3 separate regions of the Homo sapiens genome follow, and regions 1 and 2 are each linked to region 3. The links come from fine-mapping of genetic effects on gene expression. A gene starts in region 3. Each other region holds a variant in brackets. All regions are shown on one strand. Distances are between the middles of the regions.

The links.
Region 1: its variant is fine-mapped to the expression of PDGFRB in monocytes after LPS (Kim-Hellmuth 2017, PIP 0.95).
Region 2: its variant is fine-mapped to the expression of PDGFRB in lymphoblastoid cells (TwinsUK, PIP 0.95).

What each region holds. Positions count from the first base shown.
Region 1 is chr5:149,880,616-149,888,615 of GRCh38, forward strand. PDE6A (phosphodiesterase 6A) reads right to left here. Exons shown (of 22, transcript NM_000440.3): 14 at 5,650-5,759; 15 at 4,165-4,252; 16 at 3,864-3,964; 17 at 2,814-2,921. Among named protein-coding and RNA genes, the nearest start is that of PDE6A, 60 kb to the right of the region's middle. The variant T/A (reference allele first, on the strand shown) is at 3,586.
Region 2 is chr5:150,173,741-150,182,088 of GRCh38, forward strand. The region is part of intron 1 of CDX1 (caudal type homeobox 1); the gene reads left to right. Among named protein-coding and RNA genes, the nearest start is that of CDX1, 11 kb to the left of the region's middle. The variant G/C (reference allele first, on the strand shown) is at 4,737.
Region 3 is chr5:150,151,645-150,159,813 of GRCh38, forward strand. It overlaps PDGFRB (platelet derived growth factor receptor beta), which reads right to left and starts at 4,201. Exons shown (of 23, transcript NM_002609.4): 1 at 3,753-4,201. RefSeq lists enhancers at 921-1,441, 1,442-1,961, 6,119-6,907.

The DNA of each region.
Region 1 (8,000 bases), 270 kb before region 3:
GGCAGGAGAAGCCCTTGAACTCGGGAAGTGGAAGTTGCAGTGAGCCGAGATTGCATTCCATCCTGGGCAACAGAGCGAGACTCCATCTCAAAAAAAGAAAAGCACAAGCAAAAGTCAATAAATAAATAACCAAAATGAGATACTGTCTGGCACCAGTCACAATGGCAATTATTAAAAAGTCAAAAGAAGGCTGGGTACTTTGGAAGGCTGAGACAGGCAGATCACTTGAGGTCAGGAGTTTGAGACCAATCTAGCCAACATGGTGAAACCCCGTCTCTACCAAAAAATACAAAAAAATTTAGCTGGGAATGGTGGCGGGTGCCTGTAGTCCCAGCTACTGTGGAGGCTGAGGCACGAGAATTGCTTGAACCCAGGAGGTGCAGGTTGCAGTGAGCCGAGATCGTGCTGCTGTACTCCAGCCTGGGTGACAGAGTGAGACACCGTCTCAGAAAAAAGAAAAGAAAAGAAAAATCAAAACATAACAGATGCTGGTAAGGCTGTGGAGAAAAAGGAATCCTTATGCACTGCTGGTGAGAATGTAAACTAGTTCAGCCACTGTGGAAAGCAGTTTGGAGTTTCCTCAAAGAACTTCAAGTAGAATTACCATTCGACCCAACATCTCATTACTGGGTGTGTATCCAAAAGAAAACAAAGAGTTCTACCAAAAAGACACATGCCCTAACATGTTCATCACAGCACTATTCACAATAGCAAAACATGGAATCAACCTAGGTGCTCATCAACGGTGGATTAGATAAAGAAAATGTGTTCCATACGTGCCATGGAATACTACACAGCCATAAAAAAGAACAAAATCATAGCCTTTGCAGCAACAGGGATGGTGTTGGAGGCCATTATCTTAAGCAAATTAACACAAGAATGGAAAACCAAATACTGCATATTCTCACTTACAGGTGTGAGATAAACATTACATATACATGGACACAAAGATGTCAACAATAGATACTGGGGACTACACAAGGGGAGACGGAGGAGAGTGTGGGCCAGAAAACCACATACTGAGTGCTATGCTCACTACCTGCGTGAGGATCGTTTGTACCCCAAACCTCAGTGTCACACAATATACCCATGTAACAAACCTGCCCATGCATTCTTTAATGTATAATAAAAGTTGAAATTATAAATAAATAAATGTGGCTGGACGTGGTGGCTCACACTTGTAATCTCAACACTTTGGGAGGCCAAGGAGGGTGGATGGCTTAAGCTCAGGAGTTCAAAACCAGCCTAGGCAACATGGCAAAACCTGTTTCTACCAAAATTACAAAAATTAGCCAGGTATAGTGCGTGTGCCTGTAGTCCCAACTACTAAGGAGGCTGAGGTGAGGGGATTGCTTGAGCCTGGAAGGTTGAGGCTGCAGTGAGCCCTGATCGCCACTGCACTCCAGCCTGGGCAATAGAGCAAGACCCTGTCTCAAAAATAAATAAATAAATAAATAAATAAATAAATAAATAAATAAAATGTCCAGGGGGGCAGCTCCTGGCCAGTCTATGAGTAACTGTGGGCTGAGCATGCCCCCTTGTTCAGTGAAAGCAGATTGCACTGCTCCCAGAATCAGGGGACCTTTGTGGGAGGCCTGGTTGGACAACTGCAGGGCTGAAGGAGTGGCAACTTGCTGCTGCCCCCCCCGTTTCCGGAGCCTGTCCCAGTGGTCTCCTCTTCTCTGTTGCAGACATTTGCAATGCTTGTGACTTAATCAAGCCTCATTTCCACAGAAGCATCTGGGGATAAACAAATAACCCAATGCTTCCTAGGCAACTAGTCAGCCTTGTCTCCCCTGCAACTTTTCCTGACCATTGCCTTCAATGCCCAGGACCCATCACAGAGGAGCCAGGGGACCATTTGGCTTGGGCCACATATTCATAAAAGGCCTCAAATTTACACTTCTCACCCCATTGTCAATTGAGGTGAATCATGGAAGCACACTGAGAAAACTGAAAAAAGACATTCACCAGACAACTTAAATTTGAGTCCCATTACCAACCATGCCAGACCATGCACTGTAAATTTCATACCAACCATAACCAATTTGTGACTAGCACAGCTATATTGTGGGATATTGTCCTATGTAAAGGAATACGTTAAAAATTAAGCCTATATGTTTTGAATAACACATTAACTATCACTCAAACTTTAATTCGGGCCGGGCATGATGGCTCACGCCTATAATCCCAGCACTTTGAGAGACAGAGGTGGGTGTATCACTTGAGGTCAGGAGTTTAAAACCAGCCTAGGCAACATGGCAAAACCCGGTCTCGACTAAAAATACAAAAATTAGCTGGGCGTGGTGGTGGGTGACTGTAATCCCAGCTACTAGGCAGGCTGAGGCAGGAGAATTGCTTGAACCTGGGAGGCGGAAGTTGCAGTAAGCCGAGATCGCACCACTACACTCCAGCCTGGGCGACAGAGCGAGACTCTGTCTCAAAACAAAAAACAAAACAAAACAAAAACCCCTTAATTGCTATAGTGCTTTCCGTTGTATCAAAAACTTAAAAGTTATATCAGTTTACCACCCAAATCTTAGATATTATGATTGAACTACTTCAAATAACATATTTTTTTATTCAGATAAATAAAACAATAATACACTGTCTTGCATTTTTAGTGCTAAAATAAAGATTAAACATGTGGCTTGTGCAATTGGAATTTGGCATAACTTCATTTTTTTCATATGTTGAAGGCCTCCAAAATGAAATAGTCCCAAGGCTTGTTGAGGGCAGCAAGAGCTGTCAGTGCATCTCGCCTCATGATCCTAAGCCTAAGAGGATCAGGTTTTAACCCCATCCCAACTCACATAACGATTTCCTTCCGTGTCTGCTCCAGCATCATGTACTGTGTCCACTCCTGTTCACTCTCATATGTCTTAGACTGATCCACGATCTTTTGGAACATCGTCCTCTTCCTACAAAACATATCAGTCTAGTAAAGGGAGCAAGTCTTAGAATAAGGCAACACCTGAGCTGCTAACATTGGCTGATTCAGATGGAGCCTTATTAAATCAACAAAATTCACAAAACAAGGTTGAAAGAGCCAAGGCCCAGGAGTGAAGACCTAGGTTTAACCTAAGTCTCTGCCACTGATTTGTTATCTACTCTTAGCAAATCTCTTGTCCTGAATCTCAGTGTTCCCATCTGTACAGCGGGGGTAATGATATCTAACTCACAGGCTTGTAGCAAGAATCAATGTGTCCATAACACACGTGTTGTGCCTGACACATAGTATATGCTAAATTAATTGGAACTATGATGTTTGTTATTATTATTGTTATTATATTGTTGCTGGGTGCAGTGGCTCATGCCTGTAATCCCAATACTTTGGGAGGCTGAGGCAGAAGGATGGCTTGAGACCAGGAGTTTTAGATCAGCCTGGGTAACATAGTGAGAACCCATCTTTACAGCAAATTAAAAAATTATCCAGGAGTGGTGGTGTTCCTGTAGTCCCAGCCACTCAGGAGGCTGAGGTGGGAGGATCCCTTGAGCCCAGGAAGCAGTGAGCTGTGATGGTGCCACCGCACTCTAGCCTGGGCAACAGAGTGAGATCCTGTCTCAAAAAAGAAAAAAAAAAAA[T/A]ATATATATATATATACACACACACATATATATGTGTAGATATATGTGTATATATATGTGTATATATATGTATATATGTGTATATATGTGTATATATGTATATATGTGTATATATGTATATATGTGTATATATGTATATATATGTGTGTATATATGTGTATATATGTATATATGTGTGTATATATATGTGTATATATGTATATATATGTGTGTATATATATATATGCATACATATAATCATTGTTGCTTTTACTATTAGAATGAGAAGATATACCAACTTGAAATACAGGGCGAGGTCTGTGGCAATGATTGCAATGTCCATCATGTGGATGGCATGCTCATGCTGTCGACGATTGAGGTTTTGAAAGATATTCAGGCTCTAAAGAAAAAAAGAGAAGCGAGATGGGAGAGAATTGATGCTGGCAGTAAAGTCACCCACCTACCAATGGCCACCCCAGATGATGGCAGAGGCAGCCCAGGCCAATGGGAAGAATGCTCCCTGGGCACACTCAGGCTCCTTGTGAAATAGAGCCTCTGATCCAGGCCCCGCGGCCTGTAGACCCTTGGCCCTCATCCTACCTCGTCTCTGAGCAGTGTTTTGCCAAACTCCAAGTGGTGTCTTTCCAAGATAGAGGACCCATGGAGCTTGGCCAGTGGGTTCTGGGATCTGAATGAGAAAGAGAGAGAATCAATATGGAGTGGACAATAGAAAATTAGGACTAAACATCAAGTCTCCTGACTCAGTCTTCAGCCTTCTCCACAAGTGATTCCGAGTTACTTTTGGGTCGTGAACTCATTAGAGAATCTACTAAATAGCATGGACCCCTTCCCCAGAGAAAGCCACAAACACACACAATGCCATAAGGGATTTTAGGGACATTAGCACTGGGCCATGCTTCAAGATCATCTAGCCCTGATTCTTCACATCCAAGTCTTGAAGGAAACAACTGAATTTCCGCAAGCCGTGTATTTATTCATTTCTGCATTCAATAATTATTTGTTGAGCACTTGCTATGTGCCACACACTGTGCTAAGTATTTAGATTCTCAAAATGTAAAATGTAAACCCAATCTCTAGCCCCAGAGCAGCATGAAAGTATTGAGAAGACTCAGCAGCATGAATTCAGAGCTTGTTAATGACTTACAGGCCATCGGCCCTGAGCGGAGACTCAGTTTTCTCATCTGTAAGTAGGGATAACATTAGCCCCTGCTCTGCCCAGCCCACTGGGTGGTTGTGAGGATCCAATGAGATCATGGTTCAAGGACTATGCTTTATGGGCTGTCTGAAATATAAGCTCTGTAAGGACAGGAGCTGTTTTGCTCATCAGAGCACCTTTTTTGCCTGGCATAGAGCCTACCACACTATATTAGAAGCACTGTAAATACGAGATGAGTGAATGAACCATTACTGGTTATTAACATCTTGGCTCAAATTAGTGCAGCAGGTAGGACAAGGAAGGAGACAAGTACAGGAGTTTAATGCATTCATTTTCTATGGCTGCTATAACAAACTGCCACAAACTTAATGGCTTAAAGCAATAAAATTTATTATTTTACAGCTCTGTATGGAGTCTGAAATGGGTCCTTAGGGCTGCTTTCCTTCTGGAAGCTCCAGAGGAGAATCCGTTTCCTTGCTCTTTTGAGCTTCTAGAGGCCACCTGCATTCCTTGCTTGTAGGCCATGCCTCCATCTTCAAAGCCAGCAGGGTAGCATCTTCTTTCCTCTCTGACCTCTTGCTTCCCTCTTATAAGGACCATTGGGACTACATGGGGCCCACTCGAATGAATAATCCCTGTATCTCAAGATCCTCGACTTAATCACATCTGCACAGTCCCTTTTGTATGTAAGGCAACATATTCCCCAGCTCAGGGATTTGAGATCTGGACATCTTTGTGGTGGTCATTATTCTGCCTGCTACAGGAGGAGACCCGGATCCCAAGGGCAGAAGGCGGTGGGAAGCTGTGGACCACAAGACTTCCCTGTTGGCCAGTGAGTCTGCCTGGGAGCCACACAGAGCTGGATAATGAATCCGGAGGGTTGGGTGTGGGGAGGGAGGCTGACTCACTTCATCTGGTAGAGGTTATTGGTGCCTCTGTGGTCAATGTCATGGCAGAAAGCAGCAGTGACCATGGCCAAGGCCTCTAGGTCCGTGAAGTAGCGCTTCAGCTTTCCCGTCTGGAAGGGCAATCAGAGTGCAAATCATTCCTTTTGTGTAGGGGCTGGAAGCAGGGCTGAAAAGGCGGGTGTAAGGAGGAGGGCCCAGAACTAAAAAACTCATGGGTCTGATCTTGGCTGTATCCTGGCTCCAGAGGCTGACCAGAGGACTGCCCAGGGCTGAGGGGTTTTTTGGATATGGGACTTTCAGTGCTAGAATGGGGAAAGTCCCAGGTAAATGGGAACAACTGGTCACCCTATTTCTGAGTTGACCTTAGCTGGTCTCATCTCCCTCTGAACCTCGGTAGCCCAATCTCCATAATGAGGGTCGAGCATATTGGATCAGATGAATTTTGAGAAACTTGTAGAAGTCAGGTTTTAGGATTTGGAGAGTTTCTGAACATGGCCAGGCTGGTAAAGCAAATCTTCCAAACGTGGTCTACTGGTTTAAGCACAGCCTGGAGGAATCCTTCCCTGGGATTTTGCCAGACACTTAACTCCTTGTTGATGCTGGGTGTTGAAACCAAATGTGGGAAAGTGCTCTGGAGAGCTGATGCTGACTTTATGAAAGCAATCACTCTAAGTGGTGTTCCTGTCACCCTTTAAGGTAGCCTGGTCAGAATTCCTGCTTCCGGGCCCTAGCACCTACTCTGGCCTGACCATTTCAGCCAAGGGGGAAGGGATGATGTTGAGGAAGGGCAGGGATTTGCATCATGATCTGGATGGGGAAATAACTTGAAATAAAACATAAAAGTCTCCGAACCCTCTCAGTGAAAAATACGAACACAAATACACAAAGATAAGTCCATCCAAGGATATTGTGGCACTGTTTGTAATAGTGAAAGATTGAAAAGACTTCCAAGTCCAACAATAGAACACTATGCAGCCACAAAATTGTATCATGGATAAGCCTCAAAAATGTTATGTTAAGTGAAATATGCCAGACACGAAAGGACGAATACTGTATGATTTCACCTCACTGTATATGAGGTGCATAGAATAGTCAAGATGAAAGAAACAAAAAATAAGACAGGGCCAGGCATGGCAGGTCACACATGGCAGCACTTTGGGAGGCCAAGGTAGGAGGACCACTTGAGCCTAAGAATTCAAGATCAGCTTAGGCAACACAGCCAGACCCTGTCTCTACAAAACTAAAAATTTATGTGGACATGGTGGCACATACCTGTGGTCTCGGCTACCTGGTGTTAGTCCCAACTGCACCATTTTGTAAGCTCCCCATTATTTTGCAGACCTTGGTCAAAGTGAAACATTTCATGGGGGTTTGGGTCGGGAGAAACAGCCTTCCTAACCACCTGACCACAAGGCAGACAAAGGCCCAACTAAAGAAACATTCCTATCATATCTTGCTGGGCAAAAGTCCAAGAAACACCACAATGGCATCCCACCGAGACAAAAGCAAAACCGCCTCATCATGAGAACATCTTATCAATAGCCTGCCAGGCAACAAGCCATACTGCCCAGACCCCTCCCGCCCATACCTATAAGTACCACCAGCCTGTAAGCAGCGGTGGGCTCTGGCATTAGGCTGGTTCCTACTTCTGTAGATTTTATGCTGGGCGTAAAGCCTGCATTTGCTCTTGAGCCGCCCTCTTTCTGTGTGTGTGTGTGTGTGTGTCTTTCTTTAACCCTCGCCTTCCCTTCAAAACCTAACATGTGGGAGGGTGAGGTGGGAGGATCGCTTGAGCCCAGGAGGTCAAGGCTGCAGTGAGCCGTGTGTTCTCAGCACTGCACTCCAGCCTGTGTGACAGAGCAAGATCATATCTCAAAAGTAAAAAAAGATCTAAGAGGATAGAGATTAAATGTTGCCTCCTCTACAATTTCTTATTACCAAGAGACTAAAAATATTTGGGACTGTTACTAAAAATTTTCTGTGCCACAGTGACAGATTGTACTATGGGGAACTACATGCTTCTAGAAATTATTATTCACAGACGATTGATCTACAGATTGCTGGTGTGACAGACAGTTCACAATTTTTGCTTGCTTCCTAGTGTTCACTGGAAATTAAGGTCACTAAGGGTTAAGAATTCTAATTAATATAAGGATATATTAACATATATTAATATATATTTCTTTATTTAGAATTCTTAACACATAATTAATATGTTATTTATAATATATTAATAACTAATAATTAATATATTATTAATAAAATAATAAGGGAAACAATTCTATAAGCAATTATACAAGAGGGCAAAAACTGCTTTTGGTAAGAAAAAGCTATAAGATATGAGGATGTTT
Region 2 (8,348 bases), 22 kb after region 3:
CTGTCCCCGGAACAGCACATTTCTTCTCCATCAAATGAGTGGCTGGACTAAGCTTTAGGAGCAATGGAGATGGACAGAAGGCTGTGCTTTGGAGGCTGAGCCACCAGCTGCTGGAGTGGACTTGGGGAGCAAGGGAGACAGGACTGAGAGGTGCCACCTTGGCTTTTGATCTGAATGGCTGGAGGATGGAGGTGCTGTTTATTGAGTTAAAGAAGCAGAGGAAGTAGCAGGTTTGTTTTATGTATTCACCAAGGATTCATCAAGTACTCACTGTGTGTGTCAGGCACGTGATAGGTGCTGGTGAGCTAAATGGCATGGCCCTACCCTCAAAGAGCATTCAGGGAGCCAAGGCCTAAGGGGAGGGTCTTCACCAAGGTCACACAGCCAGCTAGGGGTAGGAAGGGGCTGGAGGCAGAGCCCCTCACTGCAGCCCCACCTCGAACGTGAGACTTCGGGAGCCACACCTACAGTGGAGTAGCAAGGGCTTCACTCTCAGACTAGTCTAGTGGAAGATGGCCAGGGGGGCAGTGGCCTGGAAACTCCACCAGGAAACAGTTCAGAGAGGCCTCAAGTTCTTCGGCCTCAGAGAAGACCTGAAGGGATGCAGTTGCTGTTTGTAAATCTTAAATGGCTGTCTTGGGCTCAGGGTGCCCCTGTGGAAAAACTCAGGAAGGATATAAATGGGTGGCAGATGCAAGAACTGGCTGCTTTGCAGCTAGTAGGCGTGTGCTGCAGTGTGGGCGTCCGGACCCTGGTAGGAGTTTGATCTAGCAGCGTTTGTCCAGTAGGACTTTCCGCCAGGATGGAAATGCTCTGTATCTGTGCTGTCCAGTAGGCAGCCACCAGCTGCACATGGCTGTTGAACACTTGAAATACAGCTAGTGTGACTGAGAAACAGAATTTTATATTTTATTTAATTAATGTGGCTAGTTGCTGTCATATTGGACAGTGCAGAAAAATCTCTCTCAAGAGTTCCCAGAATGGAAATCCATTCTGCATAAGCTCCTTGTTCTTGCATTGAGGAATCTCTCCTGCCTTTTTTTTTTTTTTCCTGAGATGGAGTTTTGCTCTTGTCGCCCAGGCTGGACTGCAATGGCGCAATCTCGGCTCACTGCAACGTCCGCCTCCTGGATTCAAGCGATTCTCCTGCCTCAGCCTCCAGAGTAGCTGGGATTACAGGCACACGCCACCACGCCCAGCTAATTATTGTATTTTTAGTAGAGACAGAGTTTCATCATGTTGGTCAGGCTGGTCTCGAACTCCTGACCTCAGGTGATCCACCCACCTCAGCCTCCCAAAGTGCTGGGATTACAGGCATGAGCCACCTCGCCTGGCCTCTCTCCTGCCTCTTTCAGCTTCTTTGTCTCTGTAGTATCATCATCATCATCATAGTTTTTATTAATAAGTACTTTGTTAAGTAGGTTATTACTTTGGTCTCCATAACTACCATATAAAGAAAGTATTCATGTCTTCATTTTAAAGATAAATAAACTGAAACTCAAAGAGGTCCAGCAACTTGCCTGGGGACATACCACTGGCACATGGCCAGACTGGGGGAGAGCCACCGGTCTCTGTCTGACTCTAAAGTCCCTTCCTCTTTGTTACCTCCCAAAGCTGGGTCAGATTGTGGACCTTGATGAAGAAGATAGGGCAGCAGATGATGCAAAGGTGGCCCTGGAGGAGGAGGGTGCAGAGATGATGAAGAACTCTAACTAGGAAGGAGGGTGACAGTGGGGAGGAGAATCTGGCTAAGGCTGTAGGACTCCCAAAATGGCTGGCCTGGCCATTGTCCCCCTTTCCCCGCTCCCATGCCAGCTTCATCCCTGCTCAGGGCTTGAGTGAGGAACCATGATATTAGCAGCCGGGGACTGCCAGATCAGCCAAGACAAGGACCCAACTGTGGGTCAGGCAGAAAGCCTGATGTCCCAGGAAGGGTATCCATCCATTGTAGAGCTGGTGAGGTTAGGGCACAGTGGAGAGCCCTCCCCCTGGTGGTACAGATGGGGAAACAGGCCCAAATAAGGGATCACATGTCCAGCTGGTGGGCCGGCCAGATCTCCCCACTCCCAGGTCAGTGTGTTCTTGGCCCTATGGCTCCCCATTAGGCGACATTCCTCTCTCTCACGAGGGACTCCACCAACATGCTCACTTCTGCAAATAGCTGTTTTCTCCTTTTTGTCTCCATAGCTTTTTACCCTTTCCAGACTGCTCTCACAGCCATTCTGTTCCCCAGGCAGGGGAAGGAAAGCCCAGGGAAATTCAGTCACTTGTCAAGTCCTTCAACTAAGATGACCAGGCTGGACCACAGTCCAGGTCTCTGCCACCAGGCAAGGTCTAGAAGCTCGCCCCAAACACCCAGCCTTTCCCAAACCTCAGTAGAGTGTGACGCTGCTACAATTTAGGCCCCTCACCAGAAGTGCCACCACCTCTGAGCTGGCCCACAGCCTGCCACCCTTGCAGCGCTCCTACAAGTATTATCTGGGGTGAGATCAGTCCTCCTGAGCCCCTCTTTCCCACCCTTTCCTTTGCCTATTGGCCTTGCAGTCATCCACAGCAAGTGACCTATAAGCTCTCTGGACTTGCTTCCTTATCTTGGAAAAGGGGGCTCTTTGCAGTAGCATTCTATGGCTACCCTATTCCCACCTCCCCTGAGCCCCCTCCTGCCAAAAGCCCTATGCCCTTCGTTTGTCATTCCTAGGCTGGCATCACAGACACGGGTGAGCTCCCCATCGCCTGTTGCTGCATGCAGTGTGGGTCTCTGAGGGACTTGGCTGGAGGGCGTGTGGGGCAGGTGCTCCCTGTGGGGGTTGCCTGGGGTGGCAGGCAGCAAGGTGGCAGGGGGGGCCAGGAGGTCTGATCTTTAAGGGAAGGCTCAAAGCTGCACAAAGGGCTCAAAACTGCAGAGTCTCGAGGGCACTTGGACTGGTGCACAGGCTAAACCAATGCCCAGAGGAGAGGAGGAACTAATTCTAGGCCACACAGATGGCATGGAACTGGGACCAGGACCCACTGACTTTAGCTGGTGGTTTAGAATCCACAGGGGCCTCGTTAAAGATGACAGAGAAATTAGGATGTGGTAGATCTGGAGTGGGGCCTGGGAATCTGCATTTTCAGCAAGCCCTTGTGTGTACAGACGTGCATGCCTGTTTGCATGTGTGTGTTGGGGTTAGGATCTTGAAGCACAGCCAGCTGGGGCTGGACCACCCAGGGAGGAGTCACAAAGGTTTTCAGAGCTGGATTTGTGGTCCAGGCCTTGGGGGGCCAAAGCTGGTCATCCACCAGGGCCACACACCCGGCAGGAAGAGGGCAAAGGAAGTGCTGACCTAGGGGCCATTTGATTGTGCTGGAGCAGAGGCCACACTCTGTCCTTGCCTGGCCCAGGCTGGATGGGGAGCCCCCACTGCAGGCCACTGTGGCTCCTGTCCCCATCCTCCCCCCGGGCAGGCCCAGTGTCTAGACTCTCAGACTGAAATTGGTCTTAGAATTCTTTCAGCTACAATAACAAACACAATCAGAGAATCAACAAACATTGGGAGGTTCACGTTTCCAAGTTGGAAGGGACCTTATAAGTAAACGGTCATTTCTAGCAGACCGCCCATTGCACAGATCCATTCCCTGGCATTCCTGCCAGATGGTCATCCCACAACTGTTGGAAATGAGTAAGATCTGCCCTTCCCCATGCACCTCCTGCATGCTAGACATTGTCCATCTATCTCAAGTGAGCCCCTGTATGCCGCAGGGTTGGAGAGAACTACAAGAAACCTTGTACCATTTGATTGATAGGTTCTACTGCTGTTTCTGAGGCCAGATAGACCTGGTTTTGAATCCCACCTGCCTGATGCGTGGTCCTCTCTGACCCTGAGTTTTCTCATCTGTAAAATAGAGTGATAGTTGCCCAACTCCACGGGTCATTGAGAGATGTATACAAAGGGCCCAGCACATGGATGTGTTGGCTATTATTAGAATATTAATTTTCCCCATTTTACAAATACAGAAAATGAGGCTCAGAGAGGTGGGGAGACTGTCCTAGGTTACCCAGCCAGTGAGCAGCTGCACTCCACAACCCCAGAGGTTTAGTTTTAATGACATCCAGGAGCTCTGGGCTGGAACTCCTGACTGCCCCGAGACACCTCTGGAGTCACAGAGTGTACCTCTGTTGGGCTCCACAGCCCCTCTCCAGAGCCCAGAGAAGGGTGACAAGGTCTGTGGGCCAGGTCTTCACCGGCAGCCTTGCCAGGACAGAGAGGAGTAATTATGGAGCTAAAGCCCAACCAACCACACGTTAGGGTCACCTGGAAAACTATTCAAGTACCAAATTTTGAGACCCATTCTAGCGCCACTAAATTTGAATTTCTGGGGCCAGAATCTGCACTGTGAAAAAGCTTCCCAGGCAGTTCCAAGGCTGCTGGTCAGGCACTGGGAGCCATTGGCCTGTACCGTGCATGCATTAGGGGACGGGAGTTTGCTACCTCTCATGGTGGCCTAATCCACATGGATGGGACATTCTGCGCATCCCAAAACTGGAGAGAGAAAGCCTCCCATTTCGGTGAGTTACCCAAGGCTCTTCCCCTCTGTGCTCACCCCTGAAGAGCTGAGGGGGCTCCCCATTCTCCCTCCCACCCATTCACACTGGCATCTGGCCCAGAGGATTACTTATTAGGTGGCTGGGAGTGGCCCGCCCCTCAGCAGACACCTGTTATAGGAGCCTGGACTTCCCCCTTAGCTCCAGCGTCCCA[G/C]GGGCCTGTAAATAATTCATCCCCAGCCCTCTCCCCACCCCACTGCTCTCACACACCTCCCTGCCCGCTCCTTCCCAGGCTCCAGAGGTATCTTGGGGCAGTTGGGAGTTCCAGCCCAGAGCTGGGACTGGAGCCCAGGGCTCCTGGGGCTGTCATTAAAAATACAAATTAACACATACACTTGATAAAGATTTAAAAAACCCAAAGTCTCCCTCCTACCTGTGGCTTTCCAACCTCCAGTGCCCTCTCCAGAGGCAGCCCCTATTACTGGCTTCTTGTATATTCTTTCAGAAAGAACTATGTTTGGGTATGTGTGTGTCTCCCCCATTTTTATACACAAATGGTAACATACTATTTACACTATTCTGTCTTGCTTTTTTTTTCACACGTCTTAGAAATTGTTCCATACTGGGATATATGGGGTTTTGAAATTTCTTTTTAATGACTGCATAATGCTCCTCTCCACGAATGCACCATCCCTTCTCTCACCAGCTCCCTGCTTGTACACGTGTACATTGTTTTTTGTCTTGTGTTATCAGAAACAGATGGAGCTTTGGGCAGCTCTTGGTCGGATCAGTTACTGGAAGTGGGATTCTTCGGTCAAAGGGTATGTGCCTGTTAAATGAGGCTAGATATCGCCAAGTTGGGCGCTAAGGAGGATGTTTCAGTTCTCACTCCTGGAACAGCATATGGGATTCCCTGGTTTCTGAGCCACACGGTGTGATAGCAAACATTTTGTTCTTTGGCAGAGCCATTTTCTTGCACGAAAATTGTGTGTTTCAAGCAGCTCCACCAGAGAGAAGTTGGCCAATGGGTTCCTGAGCCCACCAGCTCCTCTCCAGAGCCCAGAGAGGAGTGACAAGGCCTGTGGGCCAGGTCTTCACTGGCAGCCTTGCCAGGAGAGAGAGGAGTAATTGTGCAGCTAAACCCTATCTCCATCTGGTCTCACTCCTGACCCCCTCCCTTGTGGAAGAGCTGGGCCTGAGGTCAGAAACCTGAGTCCTGGTTCATACCATGACCAGTCAGGACAGCCCTCTGCAAGTGCCCTTTCTGAGCCCATTTCCCCCCACCTATGAAATGGCTCTCATGGGTCTGGGCTTGCTCGTCAGAAGAGGCAGGAGTGGGTGCTAGGACTCTAAGGAAAAAGCACCTTCAGGACCACTGCCTGTCATCCCTAGGCGAAGGTCTGGGTGGGCAGGGAGCCTCATGCCCTACCTCAGGCCTGTCCTCCTGGGGGTGGCTGTGAGTCCTCTGGGCATTTTAAGGGCCCCCAGCCTGGGGCTCTCAGTAGCCTTCCCTCACCATGGTCTGGGCTCTCCTTTCCCAGAAGTAGCAATGGAGGGGTGGTCTGCTATTTAAGCTTCTGTTACCAACACTTTGGGGGCTCCATGGCAGGCTCAGTGGGCCCTAAATTTGGCAGCATGCGGAATTGTACCCTGGAGAGGCAGCAAGAGCTCTAGGGCATGGGGCATGGCCTTGGGCAGGCCCGTGCCTGCCTGGGCCTCAGTGACCCTGACTACACAGGGAGGTAGGACTGGAAGGGCTCACCAGGCCTCTTCTTTGGCCCTCCAGCTGCCATGCAACCATTGTGAACCCCGATCTCTTCCTCAGTAAAGTGCGAGGAGACTAAACTCTCACAACCGCTTCCAGCTTTAGCCCAGTGAACCCAATGGGTCTGTGGATTCAGAGCCATGTTGGCCTCCAGTGCTGGTGGCATTAGGCAGAACTGTTTTTGAGCCGGCGTTGCATTTTCTAGGCCAAGGAGGGGCCCAATCTGGAGCCAAGGCCTGGGCAGCCACTCCCTTATCCCTTTCCTGGGGCCAAACCTGGCTGAAGTCCGAGGCTATCCCGTGCTATGCTGGGCAGCGGACTGAGGTCAGTGGACATGGAAGCGTCCAGTGTGGTTCCTCTGCTCTGGCAGGAAACCCAGGGAAAAGCTGCCCAGGAACATCTGCTGCCTCCCATTCTCCACAAAGCCATTTGGCTCACGGAGAGCCCAGTGGCTGTCCTGCCAAGCTGCGTGGGCTTGGTGGAGGGGGACAGGCGTCAGAATGGGGGCGGGTGAGTGGTTAGTACAGGGGTGCTGAGGGACAGGCAGGGCCAGGGCTGAAACCCAAGAAGATGAAGGCTGGGCTGTGGTGGGGACACTTGCGAGAGGCGGGAGGGGTTGATGGTCTTTCAGAGACCCGCCATGCCCTGGTGGGAGCGTGTGCGGGTCTGGAAGTGCTTGCGTGCGCCTCCTATTTATAGCCACGTGCTCAGCTTCTTATAAAGGAAACTGGTGCTTAGCCAGGCCCCACACAAGCCCAGGCCAAGCATGACTCTTAGTATTCTCTCCAGACAGACCTCTGATCCCAGTCCCAAAGAAAGTCCTGACATTAACCTCAGCTGGTCCTCAAATCCAGCTCTGGGCCCCAGGCTGAGCCTCATAAAGAAGCCAAGGCACCGCCCTCTCTCCTGGGTTACGGCAGCTCTCCCTGCACTTCCCCTTCCTCTTGCAAATCTGTTCTCCATGCAGTAGCCAGAGTAATATTAAAACCTACATCAGACTTCATGTCTCCTCTGCTCAGAATCCTGCAATGGCTCCTGTCCCAGACAGAGGAAAACCCAGAGTCCCTCCCCTTGTCTCCTGTCCCGTCCCCCTTCTCACTGCACCTCAGCTCCACCAGCTTCCTCACAGCTCCTCACTGTCAGACAGCAGGCAGACAGCAGGCATGCCCCACCTCGGGGCCTTTGCACTTGCTGTTCCCTCTGCCTAGAAGCCTCTCCCCAGATGTCTGCATGACTCTTTTTTTTGTTTATTTTTCTTGAGACGGAGTCTCACTCGATCACCCAGGCTAGAATGCAGTGGTGTAATCCTGGCTCACCACAACCTCCACCTCCCAGGTTCAAGCAATTCTCCTGTTTTCCCGCCTCAGCCTCCTGGGTAGCTGGGATTACAGATGTATGCCACCACGCCCGGCTAATTTTTGTATTTTTTAGTAGAGATGAGGTTTCACCATGTTGGCCAGGCTGGTCTTGAACCCCTGACCTCACGTGATCCACCTCCCTCAGCCTCCCATAAAGTGCTGGGATTACAGGTGTGAGCCACCGCGCCTGGCCCTACATGACTCTTTCCTGTACCTCCTTTACACCTTTGCTGAAATTCCCCTTTTCAGCAAGGCCTTCACGGCCCATTCTATTTAAAATCACAGACCACCTCCTCCCTAAATTCCCAGTCCTCCTTCCCTGCCTCCTTTTCTTCTGAAACACTTATCAACTAGTGTATCAAATATTTTATGTTTATTTTTCTTTTCATCATCTCCCTCCCCTAGAAGCTAAGCATCACGAGGGCAGGGGTTTTATTTTGCTCAGTGCTGTAGCCCAGAGCTTGGCTCACAGCAGGAGCTCAGTGAGGATCTGTGGGATGAGCTGCATCTCTCCTGCCCGGTGCCTGGACACAGGGGGATGTGTGGACGGCTTGGGCAGACCAGCCTCCGGCCTCTGGTGCAGGCCCAGCTCAGGGCTTGGTATCGTGAGCCAGAGCCTTTGAGGTAACTGGCAGGTCCTAGGGGTCCAGCAGCAGCCCCAGTCCTCCCTGTCTGATGTTGAGGCCATCCCCAGGCATTCGGC
Region 3 (8,169 bases):
GGTCAGGTAGTTCGAGACCAGCCTGGCCAACACGGTGAAACCCCATCTGTACTAAAAATATAAAAATTAGCTGGGCATGGTGGCGCACACGCCTGTAATCCCAGCTACTTGGGAGGCTGAGGCAGGAGAATCACTTGAGCTTGGGAAGCGGAGGTTGCGGTGAGCCAAGATCATACCATTGCACTCCAGCCTGGGCAACAGAGTGAGACTCCATCTCAAAAAAAAAAAAAAAAAAAAGTGGGGAGAGTTTATATATCTAATTTTGAGGTTGCTGTGACGGTTTATTTATTTATTTATTTATTTTTTTTGAGACAGTCTTGCCCTGTCGCTTAGGCTCACTGCAATCTCCGCCTCCTGGATTCAAGCAATTCTAGTGCCTCAGCCTCCTGAGTAGCTGGGATACAGGTGCGCACCACCACGTCTGGCTAATTTTTGTATTTTTAGTAGAGACAGGGTTTCACCATGTTGGCCAGGCTGGTCTCAAACTCCAGACCTCGGGTGATCCACCCGCCTCGGCCTCCCAAAGTGCTGGGATTACATGTGTGAGCCACCGTGCCCAGCCTCGATGGTTAAATTAATCCAGTAAATATTTACTAAGAATGTCCTGAATGCCCAGCATGTTCCAAGTGCTGAGGAATACAGCAGCAACTTTGAGGTAACAGATGTAAAGCACAATTGAAGTAGACACAGAAAGTGCTAAGAACGAGTTGGTTCCTGTTATATCATCATGCTCACACTGCTTCCCAGCTGAGGTGCTACAAGCCCTGACCCTGGGAAGGGGCCCAACACCCCTTCCCTTCCCTCCTAACGCTCTGGGTCAGAAGACAGGGGGCACCAAAAAGATTCCCATTCCAAGAACCCACTGCCCACTGGGTTCTGAATCAAATGCAAGAAATGGGTGGGCATTTCAGAAGACCTTTTCATCCCTTTCTCCCTTCCCACTGCATTCAGCAGCAGCCTGTTCTGAGCCAATGCCCAGAGCACCCTCCTTTAGCCTAGAAGGCAGCTGGTCTCAGAGTCAGACTGTGGCCTGTGCCTGGAGGATGGACACGGATCTTTGGAACATACATGGTGTCCAGGTCCCTTCTGTGGGCAGAGCCTTTTGCAGGTTGCAGATTAATTTCACAGCCAAGTGTTCCAATGCAGGAGGCCAGGAGAGCAGTGGTTCTCTCAGCCAGTGGCCAGAGGTCCAGCTGTGAAGTGCAGGAACTGTGGTAAGCACCTTGCCAATGCTGTTGTCTCATGGAGCCCACACACGGTCCTGCTGCTCACAGAGAAGGAGATTGAGGCCCAGAGAGGCAAGGTGCTGCCCCGGGGTCACACAGTCAGCCAGAAACTGACTCGGGGTCAATGCATAGTCATCTGATGCCCAAGCCTGGTGCTGGTTACCCACAGCGCTCACTGCCTCCCAGCTGCGGAAGGAGCCCAGAGATGGGATGTGGGGGGTCTGAGGTTGGCCACACGGTGGATTTAAATCAAGCCAGGGCAAGCACTGGGTCTCCTGACTCTGGATCCACGGTGCTTTCCACTGCCTGCCCCACATGTGTGGGCAATTATAAGTCCCAGCTCTTCTTCCCGCAGAGGAGGGGGGCTGCTGATAACTGCTGTCTGGGAGGAGGGTGCTGACCAGATGGTCTCTTTCCTCTCTCAAGACCAAGCCAGGGCCCGGGCAGACCTTGGAGCAGTCAGACCTGAGGCTGCACTTTCTGCTGGGGAAGGTGCTGAAGCCAGGAGCAGGCTCTGCAGGAGGATGGAGATTCTTCCCTCTGACTGGGAGCTTCCCGGGGAGCACGAGGTAAGCCTTTAGAGTCAGGCAGACTTCAGCCTAAACACCACCTTAACTCACCGTATGGCCCTGGGAAAGTCACTTAGCCTCTCCAGATCTCAGCTTCCTCATCTACAAAAAGTAGGTAATAACACTGATTTCAAAAACTTGCCATGAGGACTCCAAGGTGTGTGAAGTACCAGGCTCTATGCCTGCATGAGGTAGGTGTTCAGGGACTGTATGTCCCTGAAGGCTGTGGATTCAGGGTCTCCTGCTTGGAGACAGGGGAGGACTGCATGACTTCAGAACTTGTCACTAGAGGCCTCTGTGCAATTGGGAGGTCACAGAGGGAAGCAGAGATACTCCTCCCTGCTTGCAATGGAGGAATGCTGCCTGGAGTAGCCACACGATGTCCTGGAAGGGCACCTGTGAGAAGGCTGGAGGCCTGGGTTCTAGTCTCACACTTGGGAGCAGAAGGTCTTCAGTGAGCTCCTCCTCCCTTTCACCAGGACATTTTTTCAGCCGCACTGCCTATCCAGGGCTGGGCACTGGGGGAAGAGCACAGGATGGGGAAACCTTAAACCTTTCCCCAGCAGAAAGTGCGGCCTCAGTTCTGACTGCTGGGGCCTGAACAATCTCTGATGAACAAACAGAACATAAACAGATCACCAACAGGGGAGGGCCAAGTAACATGGCTTCAGCACAAAGTGCATGGCTAGCACTTGGAAGACAGGAAGAACCTAGGAAGGCTGCCTGGAAGAGGTGGTGTATGGAATATCCCTGAAAGAAAAGTGATGAGGAAGGGCATTCCAGAAAGGGGGAAGAGGGAGGGCAAATGCCCACAAGCAGGATGGTGCGCATTCCTTCTGGGAATTCTGGGATCTGACTGGCGGGAACAAAAGGCCCAAGTTTGGAGTAATGGGGCACGGGGAGATTCCAACCTCTCCAGGCTGTGCCACTTACTAGCTGTGTGGCTACAGTTATGTGGCTGCGTGAGCCTCAAGTTCCTCATGTATAAAACGGAGGTAAAAACAGTCACTGCCTCTGGGGTTGCTGGTGAGCATTACATGAGATCAGTCTCATAAAGCACTCAGCACAGTTGCGGCGTGCAGTAAGTGTCAAGCAGTGGCAGCCTCTGTTAGGAGCTGGGACTTTCTCCAGGCACTGGGGAGCCATAGGCGGATCCTGGGCAGGGAGGTGGTGTGATTGGATTTATGCTTTAGAATGGCATGGAGAAGGGGTAGAGTCCAGAAGGAGGGAGACAACGAGGAGGCCTGAGCAGCTGCCTGGGACCAAAGGAAATGGCCCAGTGGCTGACCCCTTCTTCACAGAGGAGCCCCCAGATCTGACAGCCAGGTCCCAGCCCCCAGACCCAGCAGCATGACCGCTAGGGGGTTGCCATGGCCGCCCATCACCCTCGAACTTTCCTAGCCCTCAAACTTTTCTAGCTGCTGGGGGTTTAGAAGGATATCTTAAGAATCTAGAAAATTTGCAAATCCATTTAAATCCCCAGAGGTTGCCTGGCGGCTGACTGGCCTAAAGCCAGACTGATTCTTAGAAACAAGGCTTGGGCCAAGGAACAGCGGCTATGGTCCTGAGGTCCCCAGTCCCCTGCTTTCTGTGTACCCTGCCTACCTTCTCCCAATTCCCCTCTCCCGCTCTTCCCAGCTCTCCCCACTCCCCATTGACTGTGCTGTGCTTTGGAGGCCCCCAGTCAGCACCCAGAAACCCCTGAGGATTGTTTGATGAAGGCAGGAGCAGCAGGGATGATGAGGTGGAGGCCACTCACCCCAGAGCAGGGGAAAGGAGAAAACTGGCTCCTCCATCCCTGACATCACCCACAGTCTCCCAGCCTCCTCTCATCTTGTTTTGTTAAAAATATCTTCCCTTTTTTTTTTTTTTTTTTTTTTTACCTACTCGAAGAGATGCAGGTTAGGGCAAAGGGACAGGGCATGGGGCTGGGGTTCCCACTTTTTCCAGCACTTACCTTGCTGCTGATGGCTTCTGGTGTGGGCACAGTTCCAGGCTCTGGACAGTCACCCCCTCCAGGAAGTCCTCCTTACTGCCCTCTCCCAGTTATCAGAAAGACTGCTGGTCCCAGAGTGGGTAACAGCTGAGTAGAAGGACAGGCAGGACTGGTGCAGGCTCCTGAAGGCTCAGGAGAACAGAGGGATGGAGGAAGGGGGCTGCTGTAGGGGAGAGGAGCGGCCCAGCTTCGCCTCACTCCCCAAGCATCCTTCGGGAGGAGCAGAGCCGCCAGAGGGGCCGCCCTGGGTCTGGCTGTCTGCGTTGGGCAGGGCGAGCACAGGCTGCTGCTGGGCAGCAGGGCTGAGGGGCCGGCTCTCTCCTCCTCCTTGTTGATCTCCTCTCTGGCTCCAAGTTGCTCACAGAGCGATCCTGGGTCCCAGATAGGGCGGGCAGTCACTGCTGGCTGCTGGCAGCCTCAGGAGCTCACACCACTATGGGCTTCCATGCCCCCCCACTTCCCCCGCCACTTTGGGGGAAAGGCTGCAGGGTGGCTTCTGATTGGCCCAGCTGGGAGAAGGGGGGGCGGCGGGGCAGGGAGGGTGGACGCGTGCGTCTGTTTTCAATTTCAGTTTTTTTCCCCCTCTCTCTTTCTTTTCCCCCAAGTTTCTTGTTTTTCTTCTTTTCACTCTGCTTACTCCCTCCCATCGCCCGTTCGCTCAGGATGTGAGGGGATGCTTAGAAATTCCACAGCCCACGCCAGCCGCCAGCTGCTGAGTCACTTTTGTCAAAGAGTGGCCTCGGCCCCACTTTCCCGATGCCCATGTCGGGTGGCGGCCTCCCCTTGCCATGGCACCCAGGGAGATCATTTCTCAGTGCCTCAGTTTCCCCATCTGTAAAGGAGACTCTGATCATCTCTGTGGTTGATTCAGTCAACCTTCATTCATTGAACAAGCATACTGAGCATTTACTACATTCTAACACTGTACTGGGTGCAGGGGACAGTAGCAAGACGTGGTCCTGACCTCAGAAGCACCAGGCTAGTGAGCAAGATATTCATTGGGCAAGCAGGTGCCCGGTCGGCAGACAGGAGGCTGAGAGTGCATTTAGAAGGACCCCTAACGGAAGCCTGAGAGAATCAGAGAGCACTGCTGAGAAGAGGTGACATGGAGGAGATGGAAAGATCCTCCAAGATGATCAGCCGTTTTTCAGAAGGACAAACCAAGGCCCAGGGGTGAATTGGCACAGAGAGGGAATGTGATTTGGTCAAGGTCATCCAGCACAGATTGGATATCTCTGGATATTGACAGATACATTCCTTTTCACGTCTCAAAGCCCCTGGGGTGCAAGGAGAGGATTATTTGCCCCATTTTATAGATGGGGACACTGAGGCCCAGAGGAGCAAAATAAGCTTCCCAAGCTTACGCAGCAATGGCAGAGCTGGGGCAGAACTAGGTCTCATGAGACACATGATGGAAGAGACACAAGTCATCTGACCCCCACCCGAGACCCCTATTCCAGTGTAGATGAACCCCCTGCCCTGCTTTCTTCCTAGGTTCCCCCTGTGGCTCTTTCATTCAGTCACTCAACAAGATACTTTCTTTTTTTTTTTTTTTTTTTTTTTGAGATGGAGTCTTGCTCTGTCTCCCAGGCTGGAGTGCAATGGCGCAGTCTAGGCTCACTGCAACCTCCGCCTCCCAGGTTCAAGTGACTCTCCTGCCTCAGACTCCCAAGTAGCTGGGATTACAGGCGCACACCACCACACCTGGCTATTTTTGTATTTTTTGTAGAGACCGGGTTTCACTATGTTGGCCAGGCTGGTCTCAAACCCCTGACTTCATGATCCACCCACCTCAGCCTCCCAAAGTGCTGGGATTACAGGCTTGAGCCACCGCACCCAGCCTCAACAAGATACTTTCAAGTATCCGTTTTGTTCCATTTCCATTCTCTGGCTCTCCTTTCCTACCAGGGTCTGCCAAGACTCCTCCAGTTCCCCCAGCTGGGTCTCTTCTTCCACCCTCAGCTTCTCAGATCAGAAGACATCTCCAGTTACAGACTCCTAGCCCTCAGATGGCAAAGGGCATTATTTTAGAAGGGCATATAGAGTGGGCTTACCACCCCTGCTCCCACTACTGCACCCACAGGGCAACTGAATTCCAGAGGGTGAAGAAAGCTGTCCCAGGTGACACAGGTAGAGGCTGGCTCTGCCCTCCTTCCCTCTGCGCCGCTAAGTCTTTCCTCCTCAGCTTCCCCCAGACCCCTGTTCACAGAGCAGAGGATTTGCGTGAGCTGGGATTCCATGCCCACCACAGTCAACTATCTTGCATTTCTTGGTCTAGTCCCAATCGGGATTGCCCAGCAGAGCATCTGGGCTGGACCACATAGAAGGAGAAGTGTTCTCAGACTGGTTCCCAGCCACGGGTTGGGGACCATAAGAGTACCCCGAGAGAGGGGGCCTGGCCAGGTCTTTGTGGCAACAGGGAAATAGGGGAATGTGAAAAGATCCCACAGGCCACAAGGTCAGGCTTGCACAGGGATTTCTTGTGCCCAAAGATTCCGTCAGAAATTTACGACTCCCCTCCTAGCATCTGCCTGGGCCATTCACCTCTGAATCCTTGGCTGACCCTCTGCAGCCAGGCCAGCCTGGGGGAGGCCACGAGACACACCAACCCCCTAGTCCCCAAAGAAGCTAGTCTGGGAGTCAGAAGACCCAGCCACAGACTTATCAGGAGAACTTGAATAAGTCCCTTGCCCTGCCTGAGCCTCGGTTTCCCTATTTGTACATAACAGTTGTGGACTCACTGTGCTACAAGGCCCTTGGGATGGTCCGTCTGCAATTTCCCTTAGAGCTGGACTCTAGCAAGGGAGAGGAGGCTGGTGGGCCCTAGGGCAGGGGTACAGCTGGGGCCAGAGATGCAGCACAAAGGGGAGGGGCAGTTGGCGGTGGCTCCCCTGGGAAGCTGGCGGCCTCCAGTTTCCGGCCAGCCCAGCCGTCCTGAGGCCCATCTGGAATTACTTAGCCCCTACTGCCATTAACCCTTGGTGGGCACCAGGACTGTCACTCCTCCTCTCAACTGAGATATGGGTGGGAGGTGCAGAGCTACAGGGAGCAACCCAGGGCACTCACCAAGGGGCAAAATTGTCATGATTGACAGAGGAGGTTGGAGAGCTAGAGATAGAGCTGGGTTCGAATCCCAGCTGCTCCAGTTTCAAGCTACATGAGCTTAGGCAAGTCACTTAAACTCCTGGCCTTGGTTTCCTCCTCTGGAAAATGGAGACAAGTCAAAGACTGATTCATAAGACTCTTCGGTTTGTACAAAGGACTTAGTACATTGCCTCGAAGTGTACTAAGTGTACACTATTACTGAAATAGTGAGTTTCCTCATTCGAGCAGCATTCCATCACTGTGTCTTCCTGGGCGGAGCCTCCCTTTTCTGGGTCTTGGATTCCCCTTGTGCACTCTGCCTTCAGCGGCAATGGACGGGGCACATGGGCAGTGCAGCACCATCACCCTGGGGTGGTCAGCATGGCCCCCAGCCCCACTGTGGACAGGACAAGCTATGAACATCCTCACACCTACACAGATACTGGGAACCCAGTCCAGCCTTGGACAATGCTGTCTTGGGGAAGCCTGGGCTGAGAGTAGGTGGGCAGAGCATGGAATGTGGGGAGCCCTGCCTGAAGTGGACTGGGATGGGGTACAGTGGGAGAGGGGGGCTCTGGGCCTTAGGGTTCCACACTGCCTTCCCCCACAGCACGGTGGCACACTCAAGAGTTAAATGTCTGGACTCTGATGTTGGCAGCTCCAACCCAGCTCCACCACTTCCCAGCCATGTGACGCTGGGAGATGATATGACCTGAGCTCTCTGAGCCTCAGTACCTTCAACTGTGAAATGGGGACACATGTGCCTACCTCACAGGGTTGTGGAGAGACCTGAATAAGCCATGCCCACAGGCATTTTGTCAAGCCTCGAGCAAAACAAGAAAGTGCCACAAAAGGTGACTGATCCAGCTGGGCGCGGTGGCTCACGTCTATAATCCCAGCACTTTGGGAGGCCAAGGTGGGTGGATCACCTGAGGTCAGGAGTTTGAGACCAGCCTGGCCAACATGGAGAAACCCAGTCTCCACTAAAAATACAAAATTAGCTGGGTGTGGTGGTGCATGCCTGTAATCCCAGCTACTCGGGAGGCTGAGGCCAGAGAATTGCTTGAACCCGGGAGGCAGACGTTGTGGTGAGCTGAGATGGCGCCATTGCACTCCAGTCTGGGCAACAAGAGTGAAACTCCATCTCAAAAAAAAAAAAAAAGGTGACTGATCCTCAGGTGTTACCAAGAGCTGCTGTCATAGAAGTCCACCATCAGGGCTGGAGGGAAGCTCACCAACATGCTCATTACACAGCCGGTATGACTGAGGCCAGTGATGGAAAGGAACTTGTGCA